Linked DNA regions of Homo sapiens: all the other regions are reported to be linked to region 3. The links are microRNA targets in miRTarBase. Many come from high-throughput screens and were not tested one by one. Region 3 holds a microRNA gene; each other region holds the end of a gene's coding sequence.
What was found. Region 3 holds the annotated microRNA hsa-miR-4307 (AAUGUUUUUUCCUGUUUCC, at 4,702-4,720, shown strand). A microRNA usually pairs through its seed, bases 2 to 8, with sites in the 3' UTR of a target mRNA and lowers its output. Matches are read on the target gene's strand: a 7mer-m8 pairs with bases 2 to 8, a 7mer-A1 pairs with bases 2 to 7 and ends in A, and an 8mer does both.

Region 1: miRTarBase lists GDAP2 as a target of hsa-miR-4307. Seed matches in the 3' UTR shown: 7mer-m8 at 1,320-1,326, 8mer at 1,340-1,347, 7mer-A1 at 2,329-2,335, 7mer-m8 at 4,119-4,125 and 7mer-A1 at 6,685-6,691.
Region 2: the mRNA of CFAP20 is a reported target of hsa-miR-4307. Seed matches in the 3' UTR shown: 8mer at 1,232-1,239.
Region 4: miRTarBase lists POU2F2 as a target of hsa-miR-4307. Seed matches in the 3' UTR shown: 7mer-A1 at 4,840-4,846.

The regions. Positions count from the first base shown.
Region 1 is chr1:117,863,838-117,871,356 of GRCh38, reverse strand. It overlaps GDAP2 (ganglioside induced differentiation associated protein 2), which reads left to right. Exons shown (of 14, transcript NM_017686.4): 14 at 741-7,519. The coding sequence ends at 788. Among named protein-coding and RNA genes, the nearest start is that of GDAP2, 62 kb to the left of the region's middle.
Region 2 is chr16:58,107,660-58,115,178 of GRCh38, reverse strand. It overlaps CFAP20 (cilia and flagella associated protein 20), which reads left to right. Exons shown (of 6, transcript NM_013242.3): 5 at 259-369; 6 at 1,149-1,587. The coding sequence ends at 1,154. Among named protein-coding and RNA genes, the nearest start is that of CFAP20, 18 kb to the left of the region's middle. RefSeq lists an enhancer at 5,692-5,741.
Region 3 is chr14:26,903,996-26,911,514 of GRCh38, forward strand. It overlaps MIR4307 (microRNA 4307), which reads left to right and starts at 4,647; the gene lies at 4,647-4,730. All of the region lies in intron 3 of MIR4307HG (MIR4307 host gene), which reads left to right.
Region 4 is chr19:42,084,890-42,092,408 of GRCh38, forward strand. POU2F2 (POU class 2 homeobox 2) reads right to left here. Exons shown (of 15, transcript NM_001394376.1): 13 at 7,180-7,381; 14 at 6,978-7,051; 15 at 1,221-6,702. The coding sequence ends at 6,368. Among named protein-coding and RNA genes, the nearest start is that of ZNF574, 12 kb to the left of the region's middle.

The sequences.
Region 1 (7,519 bases), not on the chromosome of region 3:
TAAACTTAACTGTCTTGATTTTTACTGAGATTAGCCAAAATCAGAGCCAAAAAATTCCCCCTTGCACTAATTTGTTACCCTTACATTGACATTAAAGGTTTGGCATTTAATTCTCCATCTTGATCTTGAACTAAATTTCCTGAGAACTGTAATTGTTACAAGCCTTGCCACTCAGGCATGTCATGAAGACTCACTTCTGCCAAAATAGTTATAGCTATTAAATTCCTCTGTGATAACTTTTTTGTTTTCCTAACTCTAAATTAAGATTTGGCACACAGTAAGACAACACAATCTAACAAAAAAGAATCTGGATGTTAGATTTAAATAGATTTGAATTTAAATTCAGGCTGTGCTGGTTACCAACTAGGTAACTTTAGGCAAATTATGCAATCTGTGTGATCCTCAGTTTCCTCTTCTGTAAAGTGAGGATGTTACCTACTTCATGGCATTATGTGAAGATTTAAAGGGATGACTTTAAAAGCGCCTATAAATTGTCTGGCACATAAAATATTCAATAAGTGGTATTATTCTTAAAAAATATTATGATCCTATTGCCTTTGTCTGTCTTATACTCTGAGTGATACTAGTTGAACTACCTAATGGCTGAGGGCCTGCTTAGTGCCAGACATGTGCTAGACATTTTATATCACTACCTCAATGACTGTAAATCCCTTTTTTTCACATTTCCAGTTAAATTGGTTCTGTTACTTAAATGTTCTTCTCCTTTTTTCTTTCCACAGGAAAACGGGCCTTACTATACATCATATCCCCCATCACCAGATTTGTGACCTGCCATCTTTCAGTGCTTCTTGGTTCCCAGGATGCCACTTCCTCCACGAATAGCTACCTGTTGAAGTGATATTCATTGTTGCTGTACAGATCCAGAGAGCCTTTTGTCCCCACCTCTCTGGTATTTTTTTATTGACTGTATATTTTCTGGCACATAAGCAATCTAAAAATGGTAGGCCATTCTGAACTGCACACATTTTAAATTTGTATATTTATATGAAATGGAAATGTTCATTTTTAGATTGTTAATAGAAATTGGGGAGCAACTTTTGAGTATCTTTAGTTTCCTGAAGGACACCGAATTCTCCATTAGATAAACCACCAAGACTGTTCACATCATCTCTCTAACATTGCACGCTTCCTTTGTGTACTTAAGTGATTCTCGAAATATACAGAACCAATGTATGCTAACCAGATGCATTGTTTGCTTCAGATCCATGGTGTTAATACCATGTATATTTTATAAAGATAATTTGGCTGTGTTAAAAGAGAATTACCTGAGTCCAAGAATGTGGAAATGTATCTGACAAAAAACATCAAAATCATTAGCAAAACATAGGACTTAGAATGTTAATGTACAAGTTAAGACTAAAGTTTAAGGACTAAGGTTCCTTGGATTATATGACTTGTTAAGATTGCCACAGTTCCGATCTCAACAGTGTGGGGTGAAACAAGAAGACTGTATCTTCAGCCTTTTTCCTATAATCATGGATGATTTGGTCTTATTCAAAAGGACCGCACATATTAGTACTCTTAAGAGCATCTTCCAAGACTCCAGCAGTGAGCATTTAGAGAGTGTGTTGTCTTCCAGAGTCATGAATGATTTTGTTTAGCTATCAGGTCTACTACCTCTAAGGACATTTCATAGCAGCATCTCTTGAGTTGCCTGCATCAGTGTGGAGGAAGTGTGTCACAGTGAACAAATCCAGGGAGCTGATAATTGGCAAAAGACCACTTTTACCACTCAGGCTCTATTTGTGCCTTAGCTTGGTTATGAGTAAAAATTAGAATTATGCTGCCTACCTCACAGAGGTATCATGAAGATAGCATTTAGAAAGGGCTTTGTTGTGGTGGGGTATCTTCAGTTAGTTTTTAAATGGGAATAAATATATATGAGGGAATGCTACACAGCACTCCTCTTGTCCTTGATACCATTTGAGTGATTTTTCTTTTTGTGTGGCAATACCTGTTAGTGTAAAATTCCAACCCTGATGACCTCCTTCCTCTTTTGTCCAGAATCTCTTCTGGCCTGCTCATCCCCTGATGCTATACTTCAATAAGAGGCATCTGTTGGCCATTTTAAACATTTCTTCTTGAATTAAGGTCAAACCATTATTATTCCCATCTGGGTAGCTTTGTACTTTTTTTGATTCCTACAGCCACCTCCCCACAGCCCCATCTTCCTCACCCCATCACGTACATTGGCAGTTCAGAGAAAAAAAAAAGCAGAACCTTTCTGTTCTATCATGTGCTCCAGATCAGTGCTTCCAAGGGTCCCATTCTTTTCTGCCCAAACTAATTCTTCATTGGAGATCAAAGAAACATATTCTCTTCATTTATGATAGGGAAATGCCCCTATAGTGCATTAAATTCATCCTGTATTTTCCCATATAAACAAGAAGAGACTTTACATTTTTTAGATAAAGGTTCTTATCTTTTGCATGTATTGAACACATTTTCTTTGTGTCAGACCTCAAAATTACTTGATCCTTATATATACATCTATGTTAAGATTTTCTCTTATGTCCCCTAGGTCATCACATCCAGGCAGCCAGTCAGATGTCGGATGTTAAGCTTTCTCTCAAACAGTACTTTTTTTTTAACCCCTTGGGCACTGTACCTTAAAAGTCTGCAACTTTAACTTCATCTTCTACAGTCAATCGTGAGATCATATTTGAGGTATCTTCTTCACAAGGAGCAGCTATGAAAGTCTGCCAACTTTTCTTTGTTAAAGGGGAACTTGGCTACCTCAAGAACCTGGCCCAAACCATTTTCTGTAGAGATAATAGAGGCCGTAAGCTACTTTGCCAATTTGAAAGGAAGCAAATTTATATATACAATTTCTTACAGGCAATGATTTTGAAAGGATGTTCCTTTGCTATATTCATACCAGTATATTAATGTTTAGTAACACAAGCAGGATTCTACATATGCTGAGATTTTAGTACAATTGATGTCCTAGGGTATAAAGGTGATACAGAACTATATACATATCAACTGTGTTTTATAATTCAATGATGACTAAAGAAAGATAAGGACCACTCTTCTCACTGAAACTAAATTTGATGTGGGACCAAGTTCATGCTTTTATAGATGTCTAAAGTGTTATAGAATGAAGTTGCTTCAAAGTACCAAATCCTAGAGGAGAAATATAATGACCTTGATATTGAAATGATTAAGCAACATTTGGTATACCAATCTGCCTTTGTGAAAAGGTTTAGCCTGAATAATACATGCCATTTTCAAGGACATATTAGAGGATAAAGGGGATACTGGATGGAGATGACCACCAGCATCTGATGTTAATTCAAAGCACCACCAAGTCTTTAATTTAATTAAACTTTGGTCATGCCAAATGCTAATTGAATTGTTGAAGACACAAGTTATAAAATATTAATTTATTAATCATGCAAGGCATAATATGATTTTTAAAACAAGTACACTTCTTGCTTCCACGTGTATTTGGGTTCTTAATTCATCTATATCCAAGTTTCTTGATAGTGAAAATTACCTCTTAAAAAAGGTTCAGCCTTTATTAGACTCGTGAGGGCAAATGGTACATATTTTAAAGACGTTTTCTCCTTTAATGTATATTATGTTTCATTGGCGGATGCTTTATATTTCCTTTTTCTTTTTCTTTTTTTTTTGGAGACAGTCTTACTCTGTCACCCAAGCTGGAGTGCAATGGTGTGATCTCGGCTCACTGCAGCCTCGGCCTCCCAGGTTTAAGTGGTTCTCCTGCCTCAGCCTCCCTAGTAGCTGGGACTACAGGTGCCTGCCACCATGCCTGGCTAATTTTTTTTTTTTTTTTTTTTTTTTTCAGTAGAGACAGGGTTTCACCATGTTGGCCAGACTGGTCTCAAACTCCTGACCTCAAGTGATCTTCCTGCCTCGGCCTCCCAAAGTGTTGGGCTTACCAGTATGAGCCACCGTGCCCATCCTGTATTTCCTTTTTCAAAGGAATACATCTGCAGTATTTTGAGAGTAATTAGCAGAGGGTTTTTTGAGTATTTTTGGTAGGAAAAATAGATGTAGTTTTTTAATCAAATTTCTGAAATTGAAAATATCACTTCTTTTTAAAGAGGGATAAGTATAGTCACTCTAGTAGAAAAACATGGCTTGCCTATTTCCTCTTCTTTTCTGTTTGCTTGGATATTGTTTAATGAATTCAAACTGTAGGTTTAGTCTTGTCTTTATAACAGTTAATGGAGAAGTGATAAAATTAAGTATTCAGCATAAACTAAAGATCACTCTTTGTATTTCCCCGATACATTGACAGTATGTATGTATATAGAGTTTAAATTGCTTAATATATGCACAGAAATGATTAGAATTTGAAGTACTATATAGAGGAGAGTTACATGGTTCTAGTGGCAGTGGATTGATTGTATTAAGGACCAAAAGAACTGCAGGATAATATAAAAACACCTTGAAAACTGGAGTTAGTTAGGTTTCTTTTTCTTTTTCTTTTTTTTTTTTAAAGGGCCTTACTGTACTTTTTTTTTTTTTTTGGTCACCCAGGCTGGAGTGCAATGGCACGATCTCGGCTCACTGTAATCTCTGTCTCCTGGGTTCAAGAGATTCTCCTGTCTCAGCCTCCCCAGTAAGTGAGATTATAGACATGCACCACCATGCCCGGCTAATTTTTGTATTTTTAGTAGAGACGGGGTTTCACCATGTTGGCCAGGCTGCTCTCGAATTCCTGACCTCAGGTGATCTGCCCACCTTGGCTTCTCAAAGTGCCAGATTACAGGCATAAGCCACTGTGCCTGGCCAGGTTTCTGATTATAGTTTTCTTAAGTTGTAATCATCATAATTAACGTGCGCTAGAGTGTTTTAACTGTGCTGGCACTAATGCTTCTTGGCATATAATTAACTCTTGTTTTGCAAAAAGACCATGAAGAATGAAAGGAGGGCTTTACCTTACCTTAGTCATTTTGGGTGAATACCGTAAACTGGGTGGCGTAACAAAACACATTTATTTCTCACAGTTGGAGGCTGAGAAACCCCAAGATCAAAGTGCCATCCAGCGCAATTCCTGATGAGGGCCCTCTTCTGGCTTCTTGCTGTATTCTCACTTGGCAGAGAGAGAGAGACATCGTTACTTTCCTGTCTCTTCTTATAAGGGCACTAATCTCATTCATGAGGGCTCCACCCTCATGACATGATTACCACCCAGAGGCCCCACCTCCAAATGCCATCACTTTGTATGTTAGGGCTTCAACATATGAATTTGCAGACGAGGAGGAGAACATAAGCATTCAGTTCATAACATACCTATAATCTAGGTCATATCATAAACCCAGAGATGATAAGGATTGCCTGGTAGGCCTAACCATATATACATATACATGCATGCACACACACATATATGCATAATCTGCCTTGTTTTACATTCTTTGAGTCGGACTTCTGTGGTCCATATGTAGAGAACATAGAGCAATAAATAACCTAGTTCAATCTTTGAGTCTTACTGAACTAGTCCTTAAACAGATGGTATCAAGATCATTTTAGATATTAGTGACTCTCTTGTATATTAGTTATTTTTTACACTTTTAAGAACAGCATCTTTGAATCTTTTCAAGTACAGTATGCCTTAAATGTATAGGACCACTGAGTTCAGGAAGAAAAGCATAGGTATTCTGTAGGTGAATTACACTAACAAAATCACAACTGCAGAATGTGATCTGATACTTTTGTTGGACAGTAAAGCTAATACATTTTATATACACAGTCATACCTTTTTTTTTTGTAATGTGTTTCGTTAACGTAAGCACACAGTCATCACAGACTGAGACAGGACTTTGTTAGACCAGATCTTGTGAGCTAAATATTTAAGAGCTTAACATATATAAATGATTTTAATTGGTATTGGGCGAAGGAAACCTAAAAATGCTTAAATTGACAGATCTTACAATTTGCTTACTGAAAATTCAGAAAGCTTTTATGAAAACTTTGTATTTTAAAATATTTTTTGCTCATTCTGAATTAGAAGTTAGATCCCTTTTAAAGAGGGTCTCACTCTATACAAATATAGCCTATGAAGAATCAATAGTGAAATAATAGTGTTTATATTGAACCCCAGGATGGGACATTATTTTTTGACCATTTACATGAGGTCTTTCTCTAATTACCAAAGTTAACCTTAAGAGTAGTTAAAAACTCAGTGAATTTTAGTCAACATTCTCTGTGGAGACCTGGACTAGTGTTTCCCAAACTTTCATGTGCATGTATCAAATCAGCTGAGGATATTATTAAATGGAGATTCAGATTCAATAGTTCTGGGGTGGCCTCTGGGATTATCAGTTTCTAACAAGCTCTTAGGTGTTATCAATTCTCCTGGTCCCCAGACCATAGTTAGAGTAAAAGAGTATAGACTGCATTTAGCTTCCAGATTTTCTCTTTCAAGGAAAGGAGACAGAACTGTCATTGTAATTCTTCCTGTGGTCCAGGCACTCTAACGTTCATCGTCTCTTCTAATGCTCTTACAAATCCTGTGAGGTTGGTGATAATAGAAGTTACCTCCTGAAGACGACATTCACAAGCAGGACCGACCGTGTAGACCAGTTTTCTCAAACTGAATAATGTACTTCACTTTTTAATAAGGAAAAAAATCTCTTAGCTCCTCAGTTTTTGCTTAATTTATATTTATTATAATGTTATCTAAATATATATAAACATAAAACTAGGTATAAATGCTTTATGTTTATATGTCTTGCACAAGTATAAAACCAAAACAAGTTTATGGGTTAACACAAGCAAAACTATAAAACTAATAAAATTTAAAATAGTATTAAATAGTGATGTTTTGACAAAATGAAATTGTCACTTGTAATGTGATTATGGTACTGAGTGCTACAGTACAGGCTCTTTTCAGTTCAACAGGCATGTACTGCCATGTACTATGTGATGACCCAATTCACCCTGTTTTCTCCTATTCAGACTATTACTTTAATTTGTTCAGCACATAGTGATGTTATTTGGTCCTCATCTAGCCTGAATCCATCATTCCCCTATTAAAACAGCCTCTGTTCTCCATAAGCCTTCCACCACTAATGTAGAACTGGGCCTTAACAGGGAAGTCAATACAAATACAAACCTAAGCACTGAGATGGTTCTGCCAATATTTGGTTTTAATACAATTATCCAAATAATTCAGAGCATGAATATTATTTTAAAATGTTTCATCAACATGAATAATGCATAATTCTCATAGTAAGTTCATGGGCACTTTCCTACACCCAACACATATATACTCCACAAGGATTTTGCATGGACCCCAGTTTAAGAAGCAACAATTTAGTGGTCAGTAGCATTGGCGCTTTGGCTTCTGACACACTCAGACCTTGGGCCTGTTTCTCAACTTTTTCTGAACCTCAGTGTTTTTGTGTATTCAACAGGGATAATATTAATTGAATAATTAGGAGGAACAAATGCAATAATGTACATAAAGCATGCATAGTAGTGTTTATAAATAGCAGCCACCACTGCTTTGATTAGAAATAATAAC
Region 2 (7,519 bases), not on the chromosome of region 3:
GGGTTTCTGGCTTCAGTTGCCACACTGTCCAGGGAGCTTTGGCCTCACAAAGGTCCAGGAAATATTCAGAAGTCGGGTCAGGTATAGAGGTGAATACAGCAAGTAAGACCTCCCTCTTGCCAGAATCCATCCCTAAGACAAGCCAAGGAGATGCCGGAGATGACGCGTTTCCAGTCCTGGAAGAGGGCCTCTAGAAGATTCAGGAAAAGGGGGAGAACAGTCACATTTCGCCTCTCAAAAGAAGCATTGCCTTGACAGATCCATGCAAATTGTCGCATCCGACGGGTTTACTTCTCAGACAGACTCTACTCAGAAGATGAGCTGCCGGCAGAGTTCAAACTGTATCTCCCAGTTCAGAACAAGGCAAAGGTAAGCCAGTCTTCCCCAGAGGAAGGTCCACCAGTGAGTGGGGGGAGCTGTGTTCCTGGAAGGTGCTCTGGTCTAAGAATTCAGCTGCAGAGCCTCTCTGTGTTGACACTTTGGGGTGCCTTTATATCGCAAGATCTTAGGTCTCCTTCCAGCACTGAATCAGGAATGCTCCTGTGAAATACTCTGTTACTGCTGTTTCCCCTCTCCACGGTGAGAGGGGATGAGGCACTTCCTACTACTGGCTCACAGAACTTCAGAAAATATCTTAACTTTTTTTTTTTTTTGAGATGGAGTCTTGCCCTGTTGCCCAGGCTAGAGTGCAGTGGCACGATCTCAGCTCACTGCAACCTCTGCCTTCCAGGTTCAAGGGATTCTTGTGCCTCAGGCTCCTGAGTAGCTGGGATTACAGGCGCCTGCCACCATGCCCAACTAATTTTTAATTTTTATAGAGACGGGGTTTCACCATGCTGGCCAGGCTGGTCTCAAACTCCTGACCTCAAGTGATCCGCCTGCCTCGGCCTCCCAAACTGCTGGGATTACAGGCGTGAGCCACCGTGCCCAGCCCCATCTTAACTCTTAATCAGCCCAAAAGTATTATCAGCTGATAGGTCCCTGCTAACACAAGGGTGGGTGCTTCCCTGCCTGTGTGCTGCAGATGTGTGTCCATTCTCCACAGTCACTGTCCACTCAAGTGTCACCAGAGGCAGGGGGCCTGTGACACTGACCATCTATTTTCTAGTAACTTAAACTGATGCCACTTCTCTGTTTTTTCCCTTCAGCAATAACTGGAATTGTGACTCGAGGGATAGACCCCTGGATGTGACTCTTCTTTTTAAAAGGAAACTATGTGGAGGACGATGCAAAAACATATTTATCTTAGTTTGCTCTGCTGTAGTTCTGTTATTTATACTTGGTGTTGCTTGTCATGGACACCGGTGAACATGCCGTAACTCTGTGACTGCATTGTAAGTGCAGTGGGGGTAAGCAGTCCTGTGAGTGGCGCATGAACGCTGGAGCTTATTCCGCCGCCTGCCCCAGTGTGGGGGGAGATACCTTTACCATGAACTTACAGAATTAAAGATGGCCCATAAGGAATTCCAGACCAATATTTCTTCCTGCGGTTTATTCTATGTTTTATATATTATCTAAATATATGTATATGCTGTGTCATACTCATAATCTGGAAATGAATAAAGTGATATATTCCTGGTTTGTAAATTTGTTCCTAGTTTGTCTTTTTTCATGGTGATGTTTGTTTCCTTTGTGATATGAAAAGAGAACTATTTCCATTGAACATCTTATACATTTCATGCTGTGAAATGTCTTGTATTAAGTATCTAAAGAACAAGACATATTATGCAGCTGACCCTTGAACAACACAGGTTTGAACTGTGCGGGTCCATTTATATGAGGATTTTCTTCCACCTCTGCCACCCCTGAGACAACAAACCAGTCCCTCCTCCTCTCCCTCCACCTCCTCCTCTTCCCCTCCTCATCAATGTGAAGACAACAATGATGAAGACCTTTATGATGATCCACTTAATGAATAGTAAATATATTTTCTCTTCTTTATGATTTTCTTAATAACGTTTTCTGTAGCCTACCCTATTGTGAGAATACAAAATACAGTATGTAATTCATACAAAATATGTGTTGAATGGCTGTTTATATTATCAGTAAGGGTTCTAGTCAACAGAAGGCTATAGTAGTTAAGCTTTGGGAGAGTCAAAAGTTATACATAGATTTTTGCATAAGGGGGTCGGTGCCTCTAACCTCTGAGTTGTTCAAGGGTCAACTGTATAAACTGGTTCAGAACAACTTTGAAGACTAAATGGGAAAAAAAAAATAGTATGTGACCAGTGGAATCATCTTGCTAGGGGTTGGGTCCTAGGTTGAGCTTAAGACAGAATGACATAGTCTAAATTGCACCTAAAGCATTGGAGCAGATCACCATTTCTCTATTTGAGTTCCCGCTGAAGTACTACTGGCCTTGAATGTAGGGACTTAAAGAAAAATGTTTCTTTTTTTGAAACGGAGTCTCACTCTGTCGCCCAGGCTGGAGTGCAGTGGCAACATCGCAGCTCACTGCAAGCTCCTCCTTCTGGGTTCACACCATTCTCCTGCCTCAGCCTCCTGAGTAGCTGGGATTACAGGCGCCCGCCACCACGCCCAGCTAATTTTTTTCTATTTTTAGTAGAGACGGAGTTTCACGGTGTTAACCAGGATGGTCTTGATCTCCTGACCTCATGATCCGCCCGCCTCGGCCTCCCAAAGTGCTGGGATTACAGGCGTGAGCCACTGCGCCCGGCCAGAAAAATGTTTCTTTAAACGCTGGAATCGCATGAGGGAACTGGAACCTTACACCACTTTTCCCACTGTGCTTATTCTGGGCAGATGCCTGTTGAGTGGAATGACACTGGCACTATTGCCTGCTTTTTTCTTTTTCTCTTTTCTTTTTTTTTTGGTTAGGCACAGATGAATTTGCAAAAGTTAAGCACTGTATATGATACAACTCTACCACATGCAACATTTCTGAGGGGAAAGCAATTTGAGGGCAGAGAAAAGCACTTATCAGCATCCCCCTATTAGGTGGTGTCCTATATGATCTTGAAGGACACACAACTAATACAGTGATTACCTGGGCAGAATGATTTTGTTGTGTTTTTTTAAATCACTTGTATACTCTCTTCTACTATTAAAAAAAACAATGTTTTTGGCCAGGCGTGGTGGCTCACGCCTGTAATCCCAACACTTTGGGAGGCCAAGGCAGGCAGATCACTTGAGGTCAGGAGTTTGAGACCAGCCTGGCCAACATGGTGAAACCCCATCTCTACCAAATATAAAAAATTAGCTGGGTGTGGTGGCGCGCTTCTGTAATCCCAGCTGCTTGGGAGGCTGAGGCAGGAGAATTGCTTGAACCTGGGAGGCAGAGGTTGCAGTGAGCTGAGATAGTGCCACTGTACTCCAGCCTGGGTAACAGCAAGACTCTATCTCAAAAAAAAAATTTTTTTTGGAAAGACATTTTTGTAATAAAAATTTCAAAGTTAATGCAAGAGCAAAAGGCTATTCCAGATTCTGTGCCCTCCCCAGTCACTCCCCGGGGTTTGCTGTCATTGCACAGACTGGAACTGTGGGCACCTGCCATTTTGACTTTGGTTAGAGGTAAAAACATTAAGTTCTGGGATTTGTCATTACCATTGCTGCCTTCTGAGAAGTTAAATGGCAGGAAGCACGCTTTCCCCACATCCGTATCCTCCAGAGTATGCTGTGGGGAAGCATGGCCAAGTCTCTGAGGAGGCAGGGGCTACAGGAGGTGGAGAAGTGGAGGGGAGGGTGCTCCACAGCTACCTGATGAGACAGTTGTCAAGTGCCTGAAACTCAGGTGGGCGCAGTTAAGACAACTTTCCCCTTTTTCCTTCTGCTGGTGACCAGCCTGGAGCCACCTTCTGGAGGATGCTGCCCCTCTCCTTTGAGTCCCTAGTCATCAGCATCACAGAACACACCCCCTCAGCCCAGGTGACAGAGCCTGCTCTTGCAGGGCTAACTCTGGTCAAAACTGAACGTCGTCCTGCTTCCCTGTGCTTAGCATGTCAGCATCCCCCTCTTAGGCAGTGTGCCTGTCTCCTTCACTTTCTTGCTTACAATAGGAATCCTCAAATGGCTGAGTGGGTGGAGGGGTGGGCAATAACCAACAGAGTGTCTAGCCTCTGGCCACTGTCTAGTGAAATCTTCCCTCCAATCCAGACTCGATTATGGCATGAAAGATGCTTTTGTGATGACAAGAAAACCGCGTTAACTTCTCATCTCTTCTGGGTGCCAGGATATCAGTGAAGTGCTCCTGGGGGTTCAGAGCAACACAGGGAGGCACTCTCCTCCACACAGAGCCTCTTTCACCCCAGGCACTTGTTAGACCGTGTCTGGGGATTACCTCACCACCCTTTGGGGTGGTAGGTGGTGACTTCCCAGATGCCTCACATACCCATCCCAGAGGAAGAAGGAAGCGAGGGGCCCCGGGGGTGATGAGAGGTATTATCTGAGCTGGCCCCAGGCCAGGGTGAATAGTGGTGTCATGACTGCACAGCCCCTTGCCTGCAGCTTTCCAGCTCCCCAGGAAGACGACAACCTCCAGTGAGGCTGAGGGAAGAGGGAATGACAGGCTGCTGGGCTGAGGCGCCCTCATGGAGTTTGGGCCTGGGTGATCTCGGATCACGGTAATTGGAGCAGGCAGAATTGCATTATCCAGCTCCTTGGAAGTCACAGTGTGTTTTAGAAGGAATTGCCCTCTAAATGAGAGAGTGTTAGTTAATTGGCATGAACTTGGAATAGCACACAGCCGTTCCCAACAGGGCTGATTCTGGGGGAGAGTAGATTTACTCTGGCCCTTAATTGCCCCTGGCCCGTTGATTGCTTCCTCTATAGCCAGGCTAGAAGACTGGCCGGCGCCACACCAGTCAGCTCCTGGGGCATTTCTGAAGGTTGCAAGAATCCCAGAGAACAACCCCAAACCGATGTCCCTAGCCCCTCAGTGGCTTCACCCAGAAGCCCTAAGTGTCAGGAAATTCACTGAAAAAGATCTTGCAGCTCTTGTCTGCATCCTCATCCCCTCATTTTACTGATCAGGACACTGAAGCCCAGAGAGGGATGGGCTAGCCCCTCTAGAAACAACGGGGTGGAACGAGGACCCCATGCTCCTGAGGAGACCCATATGCCATCCCTGTCCTCTTTTGTGTTGGCATCCCCTTGCATCAAGCACTGGAGTCAGCTCTGCCCAGCAGTGAGGGCTGGCCTGCCCAGTCACTATGTGGTCACATATTAGTTGAACACAAGGGTCTGAGGCTGACAGTAAAAATCTCATTTGTGTTTAACCAGGGAATCATAAAAGTAATACATGCTCATGGTACATTCATGAGCTCATGGTTCAAAGAATATGAAGGGCTGGGCACGCCTGTAATCCCAGCACTTTGGGAGTTCGAGGCAGGTGGATCACTTGAGATCAGGAGTTTGAGACCAGCCTGGCCAACAGGATGAAAGCCCATCTCTACTAAAATACAAAAAAATTAGCCGGGCGTGGTGGCGTGCACTGCTAATCCCAGCTACTCAGAAGGCAGAGGCAGGAGAATTGCTGGAACTTGGGAGGCGGAGGTTGCAGTGAGCTGAGATCGCACCACTGTACTCCAGCCTGGGCAACAAGAGTGAAACTCCATCTCAAAAAAAAAAAAGAAAGAATATAAAGTAACATATAAGTCCCACTTCCCATTTCTGAAATGACAGCACCCGAATGTATTAACAGAATGTAGTTGCCCTTTCTTCCTGCACCCAGCCGCCTAGCATGAACAGCTTTTTCAGTTTCCTGATCGCTGTCATGTGTGTTCTCTCAGGAGCCTGGGAAGGCCTGGCACTGCAGATGACTTCTAACGACAATGGAGACCCACGCAGTACATGGCAGTGCTTTTCAGAAGGTAGCATGCTTTCATAGCCGTTGCATGTGGCGCCCTTGGGATCCTGTCTGGAAGGTTATATGTGGCGCTGCCCCCATCTATGGACAAGCACAGAAGTTAAATAGCTCACAGGGGCTGCATGGCTCACATGGGCCAGAGCTGGGAATAAAGCCTAGGGCTTCCTGCTAGAAGGTCAGGCTCCTGATGCTGAGCACAAGTGTCTGCTCATAAGGCATCTAGAATAGACTTGAATAGGCCGGGCACAGTGGCTCATGCCTGCAATCCCAGCACTTTGGGAGGCCGAGGCGAAAAGAACAACTGAAGTCAGAAGTTTGAAACCAGCCTGGCCAACATGGTGAAACCCTGTCTCTACTAAAAACGTAAAAATTAGCTGGGCATGGTGGGCACCTGTAATCCCAGCTACTCAGGAGGCTGAGTCAGGAAAATCGCTTGAACCCGGGAGGCGTAGGTTGCAGTAAGCCAAGATTGTGCCACTGCACTCCAGCCTGGGCAACAGAGCAAGACTGTCTCTAAATAAATAAGGATAGACCTAATTGGTTGGAGGGCGGGGGGTGCACAATGTACCTTTCCCACAGGAAGATGAATCTACTGAATTTTAATTCATATTCTTAAATTATGTTGCTGGGCCAGGCACAGTGGTTCATGCCTGTAATCCCAGCACTTTGGGAAGCCAAGGCGGGATGATCACCTGGGACCAGGAATTTAAGACCAGCCCAGGCAACACACCGAGACCCCATCTCTACAGAAAATAAAAAACTTAGCCAGGCATGGTAGCATGCATCTGTAGTCTCAGCTACTGGGGAGTCTGAGGTGGGAGGATCACTTGAGTCGGGGAGGTGGAGGCTGCAGTGAGCTATGATTGCACCACTGCACTCCAGCCTGGGTAACAGAGCAACACTCTAAAAAAATAAATAAAAATCCAGCAAATTCAGAGTCCTTGGCCCTGGCCTATTTAAAATGCATATTTCTGGGACCCAGCTTATTAAAATGACAATTGTCCCCACCCCAAGAGATAACATTTTTATTCTCTCTCTCTGTCTAAAGCCAACCCAGAAATCTGCATCTTAATACCTTCTCCTGGTGTTTTTTGGTGATTCTGTCATCTGAGAGTGGCTCCACATTTGAGTGAGTGGATATGATACATCTGAGCGTAGAGAGGTCAGACACTGCTGGGAGAGAAAAGAAACGTAAAACACCGCCCTCCCCGCCCCCACCCACCACCCAGGCACATCTGCAGATTGCAACCTCCTCCTACCAAAAACAAACAAACAAAAGAACCCTTAAGTTCCTCCTTTTATACAGAATTCTAATATGTCATTGACATCTCCATACATTTTCCATAACCTGAAAGTGTGAGGTCCTGTAATGCAAATCACGAGTGCCTCTGGGCTGTGATAGAGGCACTCCAAATTGCAAATCCACAAGACATTGAACATCTGGATAGAGCATGAGCCTTGGAAAAATCATGCCTCTTGGTATCCATGGTGTCTGAAGCGAAGCAAAGCAAAACAGTGTGCCAGGGGTGGATATGGAAAGGGATTGAACAGAACCCCTTGTTAAAGGGGTATAAAAGGTCACCAAGCTCCTCTACTCTTCTATTGAATGACAGCAATAAATATCAATATAAGCCTCCATGGGTTCTCTCATCACTTGGGTATCCCCCAGCCCCTGTTTCCATAAAGTCTTAAATT
Region 3 (7,519 bases):
ACATGTTTGGAGGCCTGATATCAGTTTGTCACCATGTACTGTATTTTTCCTGTCTGGTTGGGAGCAGAGAGCAGGTGCTTGGAAATCCTGCTCTCATCCATTCTCCACACATGACTGGTCTATGTTCAGCTGAATTATGGTGAATATCACTTGAGAACTGCTGTAGTAACTGCACTTCAAGACCTGCCTGTAATCTTGCCCTGCTATTTGATATTCATTCAGCAAAGCACATAAATGAAATTATTAAAACTATTTAAGGACTCAGATATGCTCATATCATCTTCAAGACTTATCATCTTATTATAATACATGAGAAATCAGCGTAATTCTGAAGAAGTTAAGCTTGACCCAGAGTTTGGAACACAATTGAAATACCTAATTGATGGTTTGTTATTAAACTATCAATTAAATGTATTTTTACATTTAATTTTCAATGTTGTTGATCTGCTGGTTTACAATTGGGAAACTCACTCAAAAGAGAAATGAAATTCAAAACTATAATGATCTATCATCTTACACTAGTTAAAGTGGCTTTTTTCAAAGAGATAGGTAATAATGGATGCTGGCCGGGATATGGAGAAAGGGGAATCCTTGTACACTGTTGGTGGGAATGTAAATTAATATAGCCACTATGGAGAATAGTATGGAGGTTCCTTACAAATCGCAAAATAATACTATCATATAATCCAGCAATCCCACTGCTGGGTATATATCCATAATAAAGAAAATTAGTCTATTGAAGAGATATCTGCACTGCCATGTTTATTGCAGCACTGTTCACAATAGCCAACATACGGAATCACCCTAAGTATCTACCAACAGATGAATGGATAAAGAAAGTACGGTACATATACACAATGAGATATTATTCAACCGTAAAAAATAATGAAATCTTGCCATTTGCAACTTAGATTGAAATTGAACACAAAGGTTTATGTAAACAGATACTCATGTAAACAAACTTTCAAAAGACAATTTTTGTTAATGCAAATATTTACATTAAACCAATCAATAATAAAAGTTTGCCTTGCTTTAGCAAATGTTTTAAATAAAAATTAAGATGTAAAAATATGAATAAGAGAAGCCCTAATCACTGGAAAATAATTATGTGTAAAAATTTTTAAAGATACATGTGAACACTTAAATGACTTAGTTGAAATAGATTTACAACTGTCTTGTATTACATACCTATTTTATACCGCAAGCGTACCTATATGTAGATTCTGGAAACCTCATGCCGAGGTAGAGATTTTAAGATTAATAGCAAAGCTCCAGATATAGGTAGATTTTCATATATTTCAAAGGCATGTATGCTCTGATACAAAATACGTTATTAGAGGAAAGCTTGCTTAAACTGTATAAGAGAGAAGCTTTTCTTGTTTCTAAGCACAGGTTTGAATTTTCTTCTGTTCATTTATTTCCCAGCAGGTGTCTCTATACAGCAGCGATATTCAGAAAGCACAAGAAGACAAGAACTAATTATATAAAAAAGAAAATGTAGCAAGGAGAGAAATGAACTGGTCATAGAGTATATCTATGTTGACAATATGAAGTCAAACTAAAAATATATACTCTCCATAAATAGTTGTATAGCATATTTTATTTTCTTCTTGATTTTATTTGTTTAAACAACTTTTTGAAAAGAGTCCTAGGAAAAGCTTTTAAAACAGTTTGTACTATATACAACCTATATAGGTTGGTTTTTTATATATATATATATATATATGTGCAGATATATATATATATATATATTTATATGTGCAGATTGGACCAAATACAAACCTCTAACAGTATCAGTTTACTCATTGCCATCTTGATCTGATAACTTCAGCATTTCAGATGAAACTTAAAGGAAGTAGAACTGATCTGTGCTATAATCATCAACAATGATTTAAAGGTGATAGTAGACAGTAAGATATTAAAAAGCAGAAAGATAGTGTAAAATAATATCACTCAAAGATGTAAATTATCCAGCTTTCCTTGATCAATGCATTACAAAAGTCACTATTTTCATTTAGAATGAGATGCAAAAGAGTGAATATTTTTAATGCTTAATTGTCAATACATAAGCTTTTTAATCAAACAAAATTTATGCTTTGATGGATCCCAGTTGAATTTCTACCCTAAAATAGATTAAATAAAACATTTCAACTTTACAGATTAAAGGAATTGAACTCATGCCTTTTTTATTGTAATTGCAGATTTAATGCATCACAACATTCTGAGATGAAAACACGAAATCAATACATGCTTAAAACTTAATAGCGTTAACTGAATTGCTTCTAAGTTAAACTTAAGTTTTAACATGTAGAGTTCTTATTTCCCAAACAATAAACATTCACCCAGTTTAAAAACACATGAAAACTATAAATTTGTAAATATAAATATAAAATGATATATAAATATATAAATATATTTATATATATATATAAATATAAATATATTTATATATAAATATAAATATAAATATAAATGATAAAATATAAATATAAGAATATATTCCACAAAATGGTTAAAGACAGAAAAAAATTCTAGCTGGATGGATCTCAAAGACAGTTTGCTCAACTTTTACATCTATTGGATTTTTTAGGACGTTAATAGAAATTTATAAAATCTTAGAACTAAGTATGTCACAAAAATGTATGTGTATTTTGGCCAATTATAGAGAGGCTATGGAATAATTGTACTCAATGAGGTCCCAATTTTCCTTTCACTCTGATGTTATATTTCTTTTATCTTATGTTTATTTTAAAAAATTAATACGTTAATCTGAAGGGCCACTAAATAAATCTTCCAGGCTTCCACGATACTTTCAGAAATGGATTGAACTGGCTGGGCGCAGTGGCTCACGCCTGTAATCCAAGCACTTTCGGAGGCTGAGGCGGGCGGAACACCTGAGGTCGGGAGTTCGAGATCAGCCTGACCAACATGGAGAAACCCTGACTCTACTAAAAAATAAAAATAAAAATAAATACAAAATTACCCAGGCATGGTGGCACATGCCTGTAATCCCAGCTACTTGGGAGGCTGAGGCAGGAGAATTGCTTGAACCTGGGAAGCGGAGGTTGCAATGAGTTGAGATCATACCATTGCACTCCAGCCTGGGCAACAATAGCAAAACTCCCATAAAAAAAAAAAAAAAATAGAACTTTTTAAATTCATTCTATTTAGATTAACAATCTGATTTCAAATTATCAGATAATATTTTCTGGTTTAAGATGAACAGAAAATACACTTGTCAATGTTTTCTCACAGTCTTTTTTTTAAGTAACAAAAACAAAATTATAAGAACAAATTAATGATAAAAAAAAAGAAAGAAAGGAGGTAGTGAGAGGCCACAAAAATGGAGAATTCCCAGTAAAGGAGAATGAGTACATCTTTAAAGAGAAATCAGAGTTGATAGGGTATATCCCAAGAATAAACATGGTTTTGTCCAAGGAGCCAAGAAGAAGCTCCAGGTTCTAAATCCACAAATTAAAAGAAAAGGAATGTGTCATGGGGCAACAAAAATGGGCTACTGAAATGTAAATCCATGAGAGCAGGGGTTTCATTGGTCTTGTTTGCTGCTGGAACTGACATAGAATTTTGCCTGGCAATAAAGAGTTCAGTACAGCATACAGAAATTTACTACCAGTAGAGTAAGGAGATCTGTCATTGTTTTATAGTTATTTTTTCCTCTTTATGGCTAACCAAGATATGGAGTTAGAATAAGCTCAGCTTTGTTGCACTCTCAGGCTTTATTTTCTGCTGTGGGAAGCTTCCAAAGGCATAAGACCAGTGGTGTGCTGGAGCTGCCTTCTACGGTCTATTAAAAGCCAGCTATTAAATTTTTAGGAATTTTGCAAGACAGGTTTTAAATGCACATATCAGTTTTTAAAAAATCTACAAAATAAATCTATACTTCCATATCTTCCATATATTATAATAAAAACATGCAATATATACTCAATATTCATTACTTTCTAATTATTCCACCATATTTTAATGCTATTGATGATCTTGTGGTTATTTACATCTGCGTGGGTGATGGAAAAGCTATCCAGTTGTCCCTCATTATCCCTGGAGATAATTGGTTCCAGGATCACTCCCACTAAAACAGAATCCATGAATGCTCAAGTCCCTGATTTAAAATGGCATATTACTTACATGTAACTTATCAATATCCTCCCGTATACTTTAAATCCTCTCTAGAATACTTACAATACTTAATACAATGTACATGCTATGTAAATAATTGTTATGCTTTATTATCTTTTTACTTGTATTATTTTTATTGTATGTATATTGAGTTTATTAGAATATTTTTGATCAGCAGAGGGCTTTTTTATTGTTGTTCTTTCTGGATATGCATGTGTACATACATGTTTTTCCACCTGCTCTACCATATGGAAATAGTTTGCTGACATTCTTCTAGATAGCCTCCAAAACCCAACCAATAAATTTAGCCCATATTATACACAGCAGAAAACAATAGAATTTATTTGTGCTTGCGGCACCCATATACATGGAAGAACTCAATGATGAGTGACTCAAAAGAAGTAATTAGAATTTGGAGCTTATAGATAATACAATTTTAATAGGTGAAAGGGAGAGAGAGAAAGGCACCTAGGGAAAACAGATGACTTTTTGGAAAGATAAATGGGCTTTCAGAAGAAAAAACAGGAGATAAAGTTTGTGATAATGTTTGTCTATATAGTTATGAATGTTTTTTCCTGTTTCCTTCAGGGCCATAATACTCCCCTGGAGAAGGGGTTTGAGGTAGGTTTTATTTACATTTTCCCTTCTGGGATTAGATCTACCCTGAAGTGCAATTTATAGCAGCCTTATTTCCCATAAGTTTCTACTTTTACTCAGATAAAGAAAGCTCTAGGAAGGCTTTTTTTTTTTTTTCTGCATCTGTTGAAAAGTTTTAAATAGTTTACTTAGATACATTTATTAGATTTGAATGAAAAGGTTGGTGTACTTTACTTTTCAAAGTATATACCAATTTTACAATTCTTTCTTCTTTACAGTAAACCTCATTTTTGACAAGTGGTTGGCTGTCTTAGCTTAACTTGAGATATGAAAATATAGGTAGAACATTTTTCTAGCAATCATCTACAAAGATGAAAATTTCCCTCTCAGATAGGCACTTGAACTTTTTCTTAATAATATAAGTACTTTATTGGAGAGTATGTGAACCCTCTTTTCTCAATAGATGGTCTTGTTAAATATATTTTTTAAATATGACAACAAAAGAACACAAGAAACTTTGATAAATTTTATTTTATAAAAACAAGAGTATTTGTTCTGCAAACACAATGTTAAGAAAAGAAAGAAACTGCAGACTGGATTAATATGTGCAAAACAGGTAACTAATACAGACTTGTATTTACAATGTAAAAAGAATCTGAAATACTTAATATGAATATATATATTTTTGAGACAGAGTCTCACGTTGTAACCCAGGCTGGAATACAGTGGCACCATTTTGGCTCACTGCAGCCTCAACTTCCTGGCTCAGGTGATCCTCCTACCTCAGCCTCTCAAGTGTCTGGGACTATAGGCGTGTGCCACCATGCCCAGCTAATTTTTTGTATTTTCTGTAGAGATGGGGTTTTGCTGTGTTCCTCAGGCTGGTCTAGAATTCCTAGGCTCAATTGATTTGCCCACCTCGGTCTCCTAAAGTGCTGGGATTATAGGTGTGCACCCACCCTTAATAAGACTAATTTTAAGAAAACAAACAACCAAATAGAAAATGAGGAAAGGATTTGACAGGTATTTCACCAAACATATATGGATGATAAATATGCATAATAAGAGTCTCAAAATCAGTAGTCATTAGGGAAATACTAATTGAAACCATGAGATACCATAGGTTGTTTGCAAGAATAAACGTGATATACCATTTGTGAAAATAAATTAGAAATTTCTTATAAAGTTAAACATAAGCCCATGACTCAGTAATCCTACTCACAGTATTTAACCAAGGTAAATGAAGACTTAGGTTCATACAAAAACTTGTATGGAAAGGTTTATAATGGTCTTATTTATTATTGTCAAAAACTGGGAAAACCTAAACATCCTTCATTGGTTAATGGATAAATAGTGACATATACATCCAATGAAATACTAGTCAGCAATAGAAAAACCTGATTAATAATATACACACAACATGGATGAATCTCAAATGCATGTGCTAAGTAACAAGAGGCAGAGAGAAAAAATTTTATATGGTATGTTTCTATCTAATGACATTCTGGAAAAGTAAAATATAGGAACGGAAAGCACATTAGTGTTTGCTATGGGCTGGGCGGGCAGGAGGTGTTGACTATAAAGTGCAGCAACAGGGGTTATTTGGGGGGTGATGAACTATTTTGCAGTTTGATTGTGGTCATGGTTTTATATGACTGTAAGCATTTATCAAATTTGACAGGGTGGTACATCAAAAAGTAAAATTTATGTGAATTTGAAAAGTGAATAATAATAACAGTGACAACATTAATCATAAAATCCTAGATGAGTAACAATGCCAAAAAAGTGATATAAAGACGAGAAGAACTTACAGCATTAGCACAAAACATTTTTTAAAAATTTAGGTCTCAGCTTCATTGTTATCTCCTCAGAAAAGTTTTTCCCTGACCATTGAGTATGAAGTATCTACTCGTCATTCTCAATCACAGCATCTTAATTTAATTATCTCCCTTGCACTTAATTCTAATCCAATGTTTTCTCATTTATTTAAGTTTTTATTATTTTTTGTTGTTTGTATTCCTGTGTTAAAATGTAATCTTGTTTTCTGTAATGCTCACAACTGTGAGCTGAGGACGTCGAATAATTCCTGGCATGAAGGATTACTTGATGCACATTGGTTAAATGGGGATAATGTCATTAGTCTTTGAACTGCAATGTAGGAGTTCCAAGTTTTTAAATAAGATTAACATGTCATATAATAAAAAACATTGATCAAAATTGAAATACCAAACAAAAGTCTCTTAAAAGCCACAAGTATTCAATAAATATCAATTTCTTACTAATATGAGTTGGGAAGTAAAACAATAAGGGCTAAAACTGACTAAAATATTTAGGTAGTATCTTTGGAAAAATAGGTAAAAACATATAAAGTATAAAAATGTTTTGAACTAAAAGAAAACTGTTTAATATAAAATCATATATAAGAAGAAAGAAAGAAAAGGCTGTGATTTTTTGCATAATTTGGATAAGAAACTCATCATATAGTTTTCACATTCTTAGAAGAAAAGTGAATAGCTTCAAGATGGCACCAAGAAAGAACTGCACAGATGCCAAATATACAGCTTAGGACACAATCAACTCCTTGCATTAAAACGACATGCCATCATAAGTTGGTTGCAAATTCCTGATTTGGGCAAAAGAATGGATGGCAATATAGAATCCCCCAGTTATGAGTTACTCATTAATTTATTAACTTGTAAGATTAAAATTAAGAAGCAGGACTCAAAAATGTTGTGTTTAGGTTTTTGTCTTAGTATACAAATTTAAGCTTGCTTGTTTGAGAACA
Region 4 (7,519 bases), not on the chromosome of region 3:
CTCCTGACCTCGTAATCCACCCGCCTCGGCCTCCCAAAGTGCTGGGATTACAGGCCTGAGCCACTGCACCCGGACTTTTTTTTTTTTTTTTTTGAGATGGAGTCTCGCTCTGTCGCCTGGTCTGGAGTGCAGTGACACGACCTCAGCTCACTACAGCTTCCACCTCCCGGATTCAAGCTATTCTCCAGCCTCAGCCTCCCGAGTAGCTGGGTTACAGGCGTGCGCCACCACGTCCGGCTAATTTTTGTATTTTTAGTAGAGACGGGGTTTCGTCATGTTGGCCAGGTTGATCTTGAACTCCTGACCTCAGGTGATCCGCCCGCCTCGGCCTCCCAAAGTGTTGGGATTACAGGCATGAGCCACCGCTCCCGGCATTTTTGTTTGTTTTTGGGTGTTTTTTTTTTTTTTTTTTGCATTTTTTTGGTGATGTGAAAAAATGACATATAACTCTTCTGTTAATTTATTTGACTATTTGTGAGGTTGAAACTTTTTAATGTGTTAATTGAAACTCTGGTTTTAAAGAGTCTCTTTAGTCCTCTGGGGAAGCATCCAGGGATGGAAATGGAGAGGTATTTGCTGGTTTCCTGGCTTTCTCATAGTTCTCATATATTGAAGACAGTGTGCTGGAGCTCAGTCCTAAGCACTTTACTTAGACCATCATCCTACAACCTTGTGAGGTAGGTATTGTCCCTTATTTACAGATGAGGACACAGAAGCTCACATATTGAAGGTCATATATTTATAAAATGGCAGAACTGAGATTTGAATTCAGAAGTATGAATTCATCCTAAATTCAAAGACTTGGTTCTTTGGCAAGAACATTTGTGCAGGTTTTACTTCCAAACATTCACTATTTTTTAAAATTTAATTTTTTTTGTTTTTGTTTTTTTTGTTTTTTAGACAAGGTCTCTCTCTGTTACCCAGACTGGAGTGCAGTGGCACGATTACGGTTCACTGCGGCCTTGACATCCCGGGCTCAAGCAATCCTTCCACCTCAGTCTCCCAAGTAGCTAGGACTAGACAACAGGCACATGCCACCATGCCGAGTTGAGTTTTTGGGGCTTTTTTAGAGAAGAGTTCTATGTTGCCCAGACTGTGAACATTCACTATTGGAACAGAAGTAAAACCCTCCCCTCCCCAGCATACAGATCTCCAACCCCACACCCTGATTTCTTCACCACTCTTCCCAGGACAGAGAGGAGACCAAGGGAGAGTAGGCATCATTTCTCTCTGTACAGTTTTTAATTTTTTATTTTTTGATGTTTGTTGTTCAGATGAATGACACACTCAAGTTACAAAAATGGGGCCTTAAAAGAAGCACATTGTACAATGAACAAGCAGATTGGAGTTAAGAACACTGAAACACTAACCCGCTACCACGAGAAGAGACGGAGGGGGTACAGGAAGGGAAGGAAGGGGCTACCAACACAGGGGTCAGACGGAACTGAAAGGGAGGCTAACTTGGTAAGGATGGAGGAAAGGCAGGTCTACTCCAGGGCTGATTTCTGGATGCCGGTTCCTGGGCACCCTTGCCTTGTACTTGCCACCCCCTCCAACTTCACCCACCCCCATTCCAACCTGGTCATTCTGGGTGGTGAAAGACACCCACACCAGAATGGGCTGCGCCAATCAGGTCTTTACCAAGTAGGGTGGTCACCTTGCCCTAGTGCAGCCCTGGATTTGGAAGGTGATGGTGGAAGCAGTGGGACAAGAGGCCAGAAAGGAGTTGAAAGTTCAGGCCCCTGCTCTTCCCAAAGACTCCTCGCCCATTCCCCACCCTGCCATTATCCAAAGGCTCTCTACGAGTTGCCGAGAGAGGCCCCCAGTCACCCTGCAATTATATAAATAAATAAATACTGAGCCCCTGGGTTTGGGGGACATATTGGGGGAGGGGCAGCAAGGATAGAGGACAGGAAAGAGAGGAAGGGGAGGGAGGCAGAAGGGAGGGGTCACAGACATAGTAAATAGTTGTCTCCATCCCAGCAACACTTCTCTCTGGATTTTTCTCTCCTTTTGTTTGTTTAACAAGGAGCTAACAATTCAAGGACAAATACTTAAAAATATACATTATTTTTTCTTTGTTTCCGCCTTTGTCATCGTCGTCTTGCTTTGGAGACTGCTGAGGTCAAAGTTTAAACCGCATGAAGGACTTGCGGCTTGGAGTTTTTGTGTATTTTTTTTTATTTTTATTTTTAATTTTTTTTCACTTTTTTTCCAACATATAAAAAGGTAGCGGAGTTGTCTGTGGGTTTTTTTTTTTTTTTAAATGGTTAAATCTTTGGTTTGTTTCTTTTTTCTCTTGGAGGCCTTTATCTCTCGCACTTGCCTTTCCCACTCAGAGACCAGTGGGGGCCCGCGTGTCTCAATCTTGCTGTCTGTCTCACTCTCTCTCTCACTCAGGTCCCCCTACCCTGGGCTAGAGGAAGAGAGAGGCACCCTGGTGTTCATGTGGGTTAGAAAAACTAGTCAGGTCAAGAGGTCACCCTGACTTGGCTAGTCCCTCGCCAGATCTCCCCAGGGCTTGGAGAGCCCGTCATGGCCTTCTCCAGGGAGATGGATGGAAAACTCATATCCTTCCCCTCCTCCTGATCTCAGCCCCAACTCCTACTGGGGCTTGGGTTCCCCATCCCTACCCACCCCCACACACACACCCACCCCACCCCCCAGAAGAGAACAGAGAGAGGTGGTTTAGTTACTGGCATCAATTTTTTTTTTTTTTTTTTTGGCACAATGAAAAGGCCCACCATTAGGGTAGACCCAGTCTCTGTCCCTCCCTTAAGTAGGAGGTCAGGGTTGGGGAGAAGAGAAATTCAGAGGGCTCCCCACTGCTCCAACCCACTCATCTCTCCTCTCTTTCTAGCCCAGGCCCTTGGCCCCCAACCTCGGACATCTAACCTAGCCCATAGCCTAGCCTGGGGTTGCCCTCCCCATCCCCCACATAAAGCTCCCCAGCCCTCCAACTCTCTCGCTCATACACAGACACACGGACACAGGCTCTGTACAGACCACAAAATAAAAACGATGAGATAGTTTTGTTTCCCGGAGTCGAGACGGGGGACCAGAGTGTAAGGGGCAGATGGGGGTGGGGGGCATGAATTCCCCCATCACCTTCCCAACCCTGGCTCCCTCCAGCCCCCCAGCCCCTTGCCCTGGCTGGCCCCCAGCCAACGATATTTGGTTTCCTTTTTTTAACATTAAAGTTCTATGAGGTATTTGGTGCCTTATCTCGAGTCCTCAGGGGAGGGGGGCCCAGGGGGAGACCTGGGGCTCACCTGCCCCTCCCTCCCTCCTACCCCCTTCCCAATATTTGGTTTCACAGCTGTAGTTAAAGCTTGGGATTTGGTTATTTTTCCCCCTCCCAGGAATTTTTTTTTCTTGTTTTTCTTTTCCTAGGTGTGAGGGTTGGATGGGGAGGGTCCCCAGCACCCCCGGCTGCACAGGGGTCCCTCCACCAACATCAGGGCATCTGCCCCATCCCTGCCCCCTGCTCCTCCTCTCCTCTTTACCCCACTCCCACATACTGGGGTGGGGAGAGGTCCCAGGTGGTGGGACTTGATGGGGAGGAAGCAGGATGAAGTGGGTGGTGGTGAGTCCTGGATTTTCTTTCCTTTTTTTTTTTTTTTTTTCCTTTTTGGTCTAGAATCATAGTTTTTGTTTGAGTCATCTCCACCATGCCTTCCATGCTGCCTGTCTTCTCGGAGGGGGTTTTTGGTTGTAATTCCTTTCATTTTGCTCTGCTCAAATGTCCTTCCTATTTGGTCAGGAGCCCTTGGCCCCCTCTCCACCCTTGGGCTGGGGCCCAAGCCCTCTTGCCAGTCCCTTCTCTCTTCAGGAAATAAACATGGACAAACTCAGAGGTAGGGTAAGGGCAGGGAGTCGTTCAGCGGAGATGCTTACATTCCGGTGAGGTTGGGTAGACGAGGTGCCAGGCCCCATCGTGCCGGGGTGGGAGGGGCGGCTACTTCACCACTGCCCGGACAAGGCACCCAGAGGCCCCTGCAATGGCCGAGTCTCTGCTGCCTCCGTCGCCCAGCCCAACAGTTTCATTTCCCGGGTGGGAGAAGGGAGACAAGGAAAAAAGAGAACGCTGAGGCCTGGAGCTCCATCTGCCTCTCCTCAGAGTGTCCGGCAGAAAGTGGAAGCTGCCCAGGCCAAAGCCCTGCGGTCTCAGGGCTCTCCTCTCTCTCTGCTCCTGCCCAACAAGGGGCAGGGGCCACACTACGGCTGTCAGGCCCCACCCTGATTTCAATGGCTCGTGTCCTTCACTGCAACACTTTGGTTTGAGGAGAGACACAGAAAGAACAAGATTGAGAGAGAAGAGAGGAGAGCAAAGGGAGAGAGAGGAGACAGGAAGGAGGAGAGGAGAGAGGAAGGAGGGGAGGAGAGAGGAAGGAGGGGAGGAGAGAGGTCAGACAAAAGAGAACCGAAAAAGAAATCAAAGGAGGAATCAAACCACCCAAAAGTTGTTAAGTTTTCCTTCATCTGTTCTTTTTGCTTTCTTACTCCTTTTTTTCCTGTCTTTTTTTAAAGCTTTTTCAGTTGATTTGGGAGGGGAGTTTGGGGCTCTTCACCCCTGTCCCTGATACCCTCTCTCAGCCCCGCCCACCCGCTTCCATCTGCCCTGGCCGAGGGACAGGCCCTGCCCCAGCCGCCCCCTCCGGCTTTCCCAAAGACAACGTCCATGAGGTATTTGTGAAGAGAAAGAAGCATCCGTCCTTCCATCCGCCTTGGGGAACAAGGGCCTGGACCACCGGTGCAGGGGCTTGGCTCCGCCTCGCGGTTCCATCTTATTCTTGAAGAGTCCTCATCTTCTTTCCCTTTTATATATATATATATATATATGTTTATATATATATATAAATTTTTTTTCTAGTTTAAATTTATTGTTTGTTTGTTTCTGTTTTTTTGGTTTTCGGTTCAAAACTTTGTTGGCCTCCACAATAGCAGGAGGGCAGGGTGGCTCCCAGTGGTGTCTCTCCTCTGTCCGTCGTCAGTGGAGACGTGTCCGGGGCTGGTCAAACACAGGGTCCAGCCAAGAGTTGTGGAGGTCTTGTGGGAGTGGTGGCCACCACCGCGCCCTCTCAGATGGGGACCACAGGCTGTGGCACTGTCCCCACCACATGGACCCTGATGGGGATGCCATCTCGAGGAACCCCACCACTGGGGTGTGTGCGTGCGTGCATGTGGGGGGAGGGAGAGGCATTCGCCAGTACCAGAGGGGCACAGGGTGGGAAAAGCGAGGTGAGTTCTCTTTTTGGTTTCTGGTTAATGTCAAAGAACGTGAAGGATCCCACGGATAGGCACTGGAATATGAATTTTTTTTTTTTTCAGGGAAACAGACAGGATGGAAAAAGACAACTGAATGCCCTCAACTGAATGTCTTCATCCCCTCTTGCCTGAAATTTCCACCTTCCCATAGGCTGGGGAGGGAGTCAGTTCCAGAGCAGAGGAGGGTGACAGGGTTGAGGAGGGACTTGTGAGAGCTAGAACTTGGCAAAATGGCCTAGCCCACCCTTCAAAGGGGAAAAGAGGGAGGAACAGGGGATGAAAAGTTGTCCGCAGGCCTTCCCTTGAACTCTCCCCTGCTGGGGGGAGGGAGGAGGTTAAAGCAAGACCCCCTGCCCAGGTGGGGAGAGCTGGGGGCCAGGGGAGAAGGGGACACATGGTAGGGACACATTCTGTTGAGCACAATGCTAAAAATTCTGTACATCCTTTGGATGAAGCTACTGAATATTTGGTGTAAGGTTGTTCAGGCCCTTTCTCTTTCACCTTCTGGAAAAGAACATTTGGTGGGTGGTGCTAAGCCCCAGCCCATCTGCCCAGGCTGTGCCCTGTCTTCGCTGGCCCAGGGCTGGGGGCTGGGATTAGGAAGCTGGCATCTTCTCTTTTTCCTTCTGTAGCCCCCACGGGGGAGGCAGGGTTGGGGGTTGGTCCCACAGCCAGGGCTCGGTGGCATGAGGTCTGACCTGCTGGAGGCTTCTCCGCCCCTGGCTGGGGTTTTTATTTGGCGTCGTAGCAGTGAGGGTGAGCACGCTGAGGTCTGGCTCGCGACTGGTTTTTTGGTTTGTTTGATTTTGTGGGTTTTTTTTTTTTTTGGTTTGTTTTTGGTTTTTTTTTGTTTGTTTTTCACCTCTGGTTCCTTTGGGGCAGCTGGTTTCTGTTGTGATTATTTTTGGTTTTCTCTTTTGTTGGTTAGTTTCTTTCCTTTTTTTTTTTTTTTTTGGTTGGTTGTTTTTTTGGTCTTTCCTCCCTTGTCACTCCTGCTCTGAGGACCCTCTGCGTCCCCACCACTGGCCTCCTCGCCCTCTTCCCAGGCAAGGGACCAAGGCAGGGACCAGAGGAATGGGAGGGGAGGCATGGCTGGCCCTCACTCAGGTTTGGACCCTGCCTCGGGCCCCCCTGGACCTCCAGGGGTCTGTGCTGCCGTCTCGCTGCAAGTGGAGGAGGAGGAGGATGAGGATGAAGAGGATGAGGAGGAGAGGCCAGGAGACTTGCTGGAGATGGAGGCTGCCACAGCCGCAGCCGCTGCTGAGACCAGGCCCACACCAGGCGGGGTGCTGAGCAGGGGCAGCCCAGCATGATTCAAGAAGAGCGGCGAGGTCACCAGGCCAGGGCTCCCCGGGGCTGCACCGGCTGCCCCCAGCACCAGATTCCCGCTGCCATCAAGGCTGGTAAGGGGCAGGGTTCCACCAGAGGCCAGGGCTGGCGGGGAGAGAGAGAGGCTGGGCTAAGGGCATGCCGGGCCAGGGGAGACCTTTGCCTTCCAGCATCCTGCCCAGAGTGCCCCCCATCTCCCCATCGGTCCCACTGACCCCCATCAGCACCCCTCACACCTTCCCCAAAGGTGAGATGGGTATGAAGAGGCAAGCAATGCAGTGAGCAGGGGCAGGATGGCATGGCTGGAGCAGCAATGGCAGGGCTCGAGGCCCCAGAGGATAGGGCTGGTGACGATGGGTGTGACATGAGGCAGCACGCACCTTGGATAGTGGCCAAAGGGTTGTTGCTCATGAGGGCTGGACTCAGCCCGGAGCTCAACCCCACCATTGTGCTTCTGCAAGAGGCAAAGCAGAGGCATTAGCAGGGGCAGGGACCTGCCAACATAACTGGGGTGCCGCTCCCCACCCTAGAAGCAGCAGCGACCCTGCTTCTCCCCACAGCTTCCCACGTGCACCCACTTACCCCGTGCTGGGGTTCAGGCCTGACAAGCCGATAGCCGAGTGGCTGCCTTGAGGGCTGGGGTTTGTGCTGTTGGTGGTGGCCGGGGGTGGGGGAGTGACAGAGGGGATGGAATTGAGGGGGGGCGCAGCCCCGCCCCCGCCCCCACCCCCTCCAGCTGTCCGGCTGGGGTGGAGCGTCCCCACAGCTGAGGATAAGGTAGTAACTGCCAGAGAGAGACAGAAAGATGGGGTCTTCAGCTTCCACTCGTCCCCCACTGAGGAACCTGGGGTCAGCTCCTACTTGTCCTCCCGCCCAGCTCACGCAGCATCTCCTCAGTCAGAACAGCCTTAGACCTCCCTGC